2 linked regions of the Homo sapiens genome follow. The protein of the gene in region 2 purifies or fractionates together with the protein of the main gene of each other region. This does not show direct contact. Each region holds a gene or a part of one and is shown on either strand. Other genes may lie near its edges.

Region 1 (3,654 bases), on a different chromosome or scaffold from region 2:
AACTGTTTTTAATTGTGATTTTTGAAAATATGTTTAATCTAGGAGCCTACTAATAAATTGTATGCTGCAGTAGTTCCCAGGTATATTTTCCCCGAAATAAATTTATCAAATTTCAGAAAACGATAGAAAAACTTTTAAAAATGTGTCTTCATTTTTACCATTTTGTAAATAACTTTTCCTTAAAAAACAGAAAGAACTTGTGAAAAATTAGCCAAGATTTTTATGAGCAAAGATTGTTTTTCCAAAAACACAAAATTTCATCCCCAAAGAAAAAAATACTAAGCAAATATAAGCAAAGAGGCAAACCAAAAAGATTCTCTCCTCACATTAAAGCACATAAATCTTTAAAATTGAAAGACACAGAGATCGTTTTTACTCTATAATAGCACTGACACATAGTTCATAATGACTGAAGGAAATCATCAGACAGTATCAAATTGAGGCTGCTTACAAAAATCAAGGTTGTCAAACAGGCATTCTAATAGGACTTATTTCACAAAATAAAAAGTTTAGCCAATTCTTCCAAACATAGTCATAAGATATACAAATACTAAATTCGGCCAGAATTTTTATCACAAAATTACTTGATAATCTTTGTGTAAAATTTTATTAACATTAACTTAAAAAGATAATCAGATTCTCATTGTATGTTCAGTCCTATACAAAGAACCACAGGTTCCCTGTTTGTACACAAAAATCTATAAATTCAAAAATCCTTTAAGACCAAATTCTACAGAAAAACCCTCAAAATGTTTAAAATCCTGGTAATAATAATCGTAAGGTATACCTTTAACTGTTAACCATGAATTGCATCCTGGCTACACAGACAAAATGGACCTAGCTGCCTTTTATAAAACGTTCAGTAATGCTGTCCACTAGGAGGTTAAATGCTGGGGTGGCCAAAGCCATCATTCAGTCCTGAAATCTACCCTAAAGTCTAAGAAGAGTTCCCCAAGAGGTAATAACAGGAGGTTAAAAAAAAAAAAAAACAGTCACCAGGCTTGAATACATACTTGAGCACACAACTGGTGTTCTTCTTTTTCTATATTATTTTTCAACTTTGAAAAAAAATTAATCAAAAAATTGATAAACTATTAATCATAAAAAATACTTATTTTAGATCCTGCAACTAACAGAAAGTAAAATTTTAAAAGGATATGAGGTCCAGCAATGAACTGTGTGTCCTGTCATTCATACACAGCTGGGCTACCATCTCGGCCCTGAGAATCTCATCATCAGACATTCCTAAAATTATTAAAAACGGAATTAACAAATCTGAGTATACATAAATTATAAAGAAAAAAACTTACCACACTTTTTACTAAGCTGTTTTACCAAATATAAGATGCTTCAAATTAAAGAGTAAAGAAGCTATGCTCCAAACATAACTGCAGTTTAACTGCTGTTTGCAGTTCCCTTAAGCAAAGGATATTCTAAAAGGTATACCTACAGTACAACATATCAAGAGTTTGAAACATTGTTTACATTTATCTACATCCTTTCCTTTTTTCCCTAAGCCAGTTACTACCACAGGGAGGGGGAGAAAGGGAGGAAAACAGTTAATGCATAAGTATTAGTATCAGTGAGTTTTACCTAAATGTAAACGAAGACTCAAAAGAATCACAAGAAATGTAAGAGCGCCTTCTAACATCGACCTCTCATGCTCTGCATCAAGTACTGTATTTTGATGTTGTGATGCCATTGTCAACAAATCCACTACCTTAAATCTACAAGAAGAAATATTTGAAACATATTTTTATAAATTAAAACAAAATTAACTGGACACTTCCTAATACCTGTCTTAATAAAATTATGCCTACCTTTCAAAGACGGATGAAATAAAATAATCTGGGTCAAGTCTAGAAGCACAAACCTTTAAAAGAAAACAAAATGCTTTATTTCTCAATATTCAGTTTTCCTTCTTCTATTAATCATGTTTTTCTATACTTTTTTTTGTTTTTTGTTTTTTGTTTTTTGTTTTTGAGACAGAGTCTCACTCTCACCCAAGCTGGTGCAACCTCAGCTCACTGCAACCTCCACCTCTGCCTCCCAGGCTCAAGCAATTCTCATCCCCCAGTCTCCCGAGTAGCTGGGATTTACAGGTGTGTGCCACCACACCTGCCTAATTTTTGTATTTTTAGTAGAGACAGGGTTTCGACGTGTTGGCCAGGCTGGTCTCAAACTCCTGGCCTCAAGTGATCTGCCTGCCTTGGCCTCCCAGAGTGCTGGGATAACAGGCATGAGCCACCACGCCTGGCTATGATTTTTATTTTCTGTATATTATGATGTTTTGACATCTTGAGGGGCATTACAGACCTGAAGACAGATAGTCCCTCCCAGAGCCAGTTAATTCCTGAACATACTAAACAACTTACTTGGGAAAATGCCTGTCATGCAAGCCAACCACTGTCTTTATCTAACTCTCACACATCAACCCAGTATTTCCCCTCCCCTAAATCAACCCAGGGCCAGGTACCGCAGAGCCAGATACAGCCCCTATGCCTCAAAGCCTGCTGGAATTATTCAAATTAGCCAATCCTGCCTTGCCTTTCCTTGCCTTTCCTGCAGAAACCCCAATAAAGGCTCTGGCCTAGGCTCTCCCCTCACTCCTTTCTGCCTCTTGACCAAAATCTGGTGCTTTCCTTGTAGCCTTGTGTTGGGTGGTATGCCTCTTCTCCTGGGAAATGTAAGTAAAAAATTATTCTTTCAATGGCATTGGCCTCTCCATGTCATCACGCAGTCACCTCTATAAATTAAAATCCCTTGGGTACAAATGAGACACTTCTAAAGTATATCTGCATTATCTAGCTGGCTTACCTGTAACAGGTAAATGTCAGGATCAATCATGGAATTACAGAAATGAGACTGGACATACGTCATGGCTTGTCCTTTGATTTGCAGACCATTTCTTACCCACATATTGCTGTGGATTTCTGCAAGACTTGCCTAATAAAAGTAAATTGGACAAAGAATAAATTATCTAAATGCAATCTTTACAAAATATTATAAATAACCATTTCAAAATATTTAATGATGTGATCATAGTATAAGCCCGATATTCTGTCCAATGTTAAAGATAATCAGTTGAAATATACATTTTTACATTTTTTTTAACAATAATTATGTTTTTACATAGCCACTTTTTTAGAGTTTAAACAAATGAGTTGGTTTTCCATGTTGGCCTCTGGATACATTTATGATGATTTTCACTGACATCTTTCATAAGAAATCAATGCTTATGTTTCACTCTATTTCTCCCTCAAGAAAACCCTAAGTAACAACAACAACAATCCTAATATACATGTTTAAAGAAAGACACTAGAATAAGCATAAAATAAAACCAACTGTTCAAAGTCAATGAATACATTCTACATCTTTAATTCACCCTAACTCAATCTTAAATCTATACTGCTAATTTTCCAAATATTGGAGGTTAGAATAAATGTTCTCACTACATCAGTATTTAATTCTTCATGTATTTATGTCCAGTGTCAACTAAAACTAGGCAGTCATCATTTTTTTTGTTTTTTTTGAAACAGAATCTCACTCTGTCGCCAGACTGGAGTGCAGTGGCGCGATCTTGGCCCACTGCAACCTCTGTCTCCCAGGTTCAAGCAATTCTTCTTGCCTCAGCCTCCCGAGTAGCTGGGACTA
Region 2 (3,754 bases):
AAACTCCTGGGCTCAAGCAACCCTTCTGCCTCAGCCTCCCAAAGTGCTGGGATTACAGGTGTTAGCCACCATGCCTGGCCAAGGGTAGGTTTTAACCACTGCTTCACAAAAGACATTGAGGCTCAGGGAGGTGGTCATTTGCTTGAGATTTGAACCCAGGGCGACTCTGATTCTAGAACTTGGAGAATTAACCACTGCATTCTACTGTATGTCTGATACAAGAACCGCGTCTTCTCACCCTCAGTCAGTTGTCAAGGCCACGGTTTTCTCCTTCTTCCCCTCTGGGGGACCCATTTTTGTTCCTCTGCCTAACTCCAGCCCTGCACCCCAGCCACTGGCCATCTCCGTTTCTGCCACACTTTTTCTCCCTTCTCTCCCCCTCCCCCGCCCCTCCCCCCTCCCCTCCGCTCCTTTCACTTCCCTACCTTCTCTCTCTTTCTTTCTTTCCTTTTCTTTTTGTGACAGAGTCTCACTCTGTCCCCCAGGCTGGAGTACAGTGGCACGATCTCAGCTCACTGCAACCTCCACCTCCTGGATTCAACTGACTCTCCTGCCTCAGCCTCCCAAGTAGCTGGGATAACAGGTACCTGCCACCATGCCCGTCTAAGTTTTGTATTTTTGGTAGAGACGGGGTTTCACCACATTGGTCAGGCTGGTCTCGAACTCCTGACCTCAAGTGATCTGTCTGCCTTGGCCTCCCAAAGTGCTGGGATGACAGGTGTGAGCCACTGTGCCCGGCCTGCCACGCACTTTCTTACTGGTTTTCCCCTGCTCTGCAGTTGTCCTAGGTCCTGCCTATTCTCAATCTCTTCCTGTCTTCACACCTTCTGAGAGTTAGCTCTCTCCTCTGACCTTCAGCTTCAGACTCCAAGCCTCCCCTGACCCTCCGCCTCTGCTCAGTCACCTGGGACTTTCTTGCCTTTGCTTAGATCACAAGTGTCTCCCATGCTCTCCTCTCTGTCTCCCTTGGAGACCAGCATTCCAAGTTCTCAGGCTCACCTCTTGCAGGAAGACCTCCCAGATCACTTCAACCCACAAAACCTGCTTACCTCTACCTATTTAGAAAACATGGATCAGACGGGTGCAGTGGCTCAGGCCTATAATCCCAGCACTTTGGGAGGCCGAGGTGGGCAGATCTCCTGAGGTCGGAGTTCAAGACCAGCCTGACCAACATGGAGAAACCCCATCTCTACTAAAAATACAAAATTAGTCAGGCGTGGTGGCGCATGCCTGTAATCCCAGCTACTCCAGAGGCTGAGGCAGGAGAATAGCTTGAACCCAGGAGGCAGAAGTCGTGGTGAGCCAAGATTGCGCCATTGCACTCCAGCCTGGGCAACAAGAGCGAAACTCTGTCTCAAAAAAAAAAAAAAAAAAAAGAAAAAAATACAAAAATTAGCTGGGCATGGTAGTATGCACCTGTCATCCCAGCTACTCAGAAGGCTGAGGCGGGAGAACCGCTTGAACCTGGGTGGCAGAGGTTGCAGTGATCCGAGACCACGCTACCGCACTCCAGCCTGGGTGACAGAGCGAAACCCCATCACAAAAATAGAAAGAAAACATGGATGAAGGGTGTGTGTGTGTGTGTGTGTGTGTGTGTGTATGTGTGTGTGTGTGTTTTAATGAAACCACAGTTTTTCAGTGTGTAAGTTTGTTGCTTTTTTTTTTTTCTCAGCTCACTGCAACCTCTTCCTCCTGGATTCAAGCGATTCTCCCACCTCAGCCTCCAGAGTAGCTGGGACTGTAGGTGTCCGCCACCACGCCCGGCCAATTTTTGTATTTTTAGTAGAGACGGGGTTTCGCCATGTTGGCCAGCCTGGTCTCGAACTCCTAGCCTCAGGTGATCCACCCTCCTCGGCCTCCCAAAATGCTGGGATTACAGGCATGAGCCACCGCGCCTGGCTGAGTTTGCTGCTTTTTGAATCATTTGCCCCCTGCAATAGTTGAGAGTTGAATATGACCTCCAAAATGGGTCATCAGAGAATCCAACAACTGAGACTACTAGCCAGGTAATCTTGGAATAAGTCATTAAGCTCCCATGAGCCTCAGTTTTCACCTCTGTACATCAGGGACGAGGACAGTGCACCTACCTCAAGGGATGGCGTGTGAATCAATGAGTTTTAGAAAATTCACTTAGCTACAGACCAGATCTTTGGGTCTCCCTCTGTCCCTGGTCTCTCAGAGGATCCTCATGTTCCTTCCCAGGCTGCATCCAAGGGTGGTCCAGCCCTGCGCATTGTGACCCCAAGAGCTTCCTTTGTGTAATGATACTGTCACAATGACCACTCAGCACCTCTAGGGGCAGCCGGGAGGAAAATTAGCAGGCAGGCTTGGTGCGAATACTGCCTCCTTAGAGCTCCAGGAACCCAGGCAAGTAATTGACTTTTTGGAGCCTCTGGGGTTTTGTTCGGTTGGTTTTGTTTTTGAGGTAAGCTCTCGCTATGTTGCCCAGGCTGGACTTGAAGTCCTGGGCTCAAGCGATCCTCTCGCCTCAGCCTCCCAAGTGGGTGGGTCCACAGGTGTGTGCCACCATGCCTGGCTAGGACTTAGGTTTTGTCATCTGCAAAAGGGGACTAATGATGGTAGCCAGTTCAGAAAGCAGTGTCAGTATTGAGGATTTGATTAAATAGGCTGCTGGTGTCCATTATTATTATCATCCTCTAAAGTTTTTCTGTCCCTCTACCTTCTACACACCCCACACAGAATGGACCCACTTCCCTGAATCACTGCACCTCTTGATATTATTCTAGGGCTCACAGATCTCCCTTTAAAGGGGCCGGTCACCCCTCCTTCCCCAGTCAAAGACCACCAGGAATGTACCTGTGATTGAACACATTCAAGCTTATTATTCATCAGAGAGAGAGAGAGAAAGAAAGAGAGAGGGAGAGAGAGCTCATACATGTCATAGGGCACTATGGCGGTCTCAGTAGGGAGGTGTTAGAAAGAACTTTTTTTCGCTATTTATTTATTTATTTATTTATTTGAGATGGAGTTTCGCTCTTGTTGCCCAGGCTGGGGTGCAGTGGCACGATCTCAGCTCATCGCAACCTCCGGCTTCAAGTGATTCTCCTGCCTCAGGCTCCCGAGTAGCTGGGATTATAGGCATGTGCCACCACACCCAGCTAATTTTGTATTTTTAGTAGAGATGGGGTTTTTCCATGTTGGTCAGGCTGGTTTCGAATTGCCGACCTCGGGTGATCCGCTCGCTTCAGTCTCCCGAAGTGCTGGGATTATAGGCGTGAGCCACCACGCCCGGCCAGAAAGCACTTATTATGGGATTTGCAATTCTGCTCGGTGTTTTGGGGGCACAGCTTAAGGAAGTAGGGGATTTGGGTGGGATGAATTTATTGGTTGGAAATTTTACTTTCTTTTTTGAGATGAGCAGATAAAAACAAATAAAAACAACACACAGGTGAGGCATGGTGGCTCACATTTGTAATCTCAGCCTCCCAAAGTAGCGTCCAGAAAAGGGCTGTTGTGGCTTGGTGTGGTGGCTCACGCCTGTAATCCCAGCACTTTGGGAGGCCAAGGTGGGTGGATCACTTGAGGTCAGGAGTTTGAGACCAGCCTGGCGAACACGGTGAAACCCTGTCTCTACTGAAAATACAAAAATTAGCCGGGCGTGGTGGCTCACGCCTGTAATCCCCGCTACTCAGGAGGCTGAGGCAGGCGGATCTCCTTTGGTCAGGAGTTCGAGGCCAGCCTGGCCAACATGGTGAAACCCTGTCTCTACTAAAAATATAAAAAATAGCCGGGT

What was found. Proteins that work in one complex are often made in the same cells at the same time.
Region 1: the proteins of SAXO5 (region 2) and UBR3 purify together in Homo sapiens (affinity purification with mass spectrometry; 2 studies listed by BioGRID and IntAct, with this or other methods). This does not show direct contact.

The regions. Positions count from the first base shown.
Region 1 is NC_000002.12:169,924,911-169,928,564, reverse strand, and holds part of UBR3 (E3 ubiquitin-protein ligase UBR3), read right to left. Parts: intron 2,947-3,654; coding exon 2,818-2,946; intron 1,874-2,817; coding exon 1,821-1,873; intron 1,728-1,820; coding exon 1,594-1,727; intron 1,246-1,593; coding exon 1,160-1,245; intron 1-1,159. UniProt on the Homo sapiens protein: E3 ubiquitin-protein ligase which is a component of the N-end rule pathway. Does not bind to proteins bearing specific N-terminal residues that are destabilizing according to the N-end rule, leading to their ubiquitination and subsequent degradation.
Region 2 is NC_000019.10:7,496,016-7,499,769, reverse strand, and holds the start of SAXO5 (stabilizer of axonemal microtubules 5), read right to left. Parts: upstream 2,223-3,754; 5' UTR 2,088-2,222; intron 1-2,087.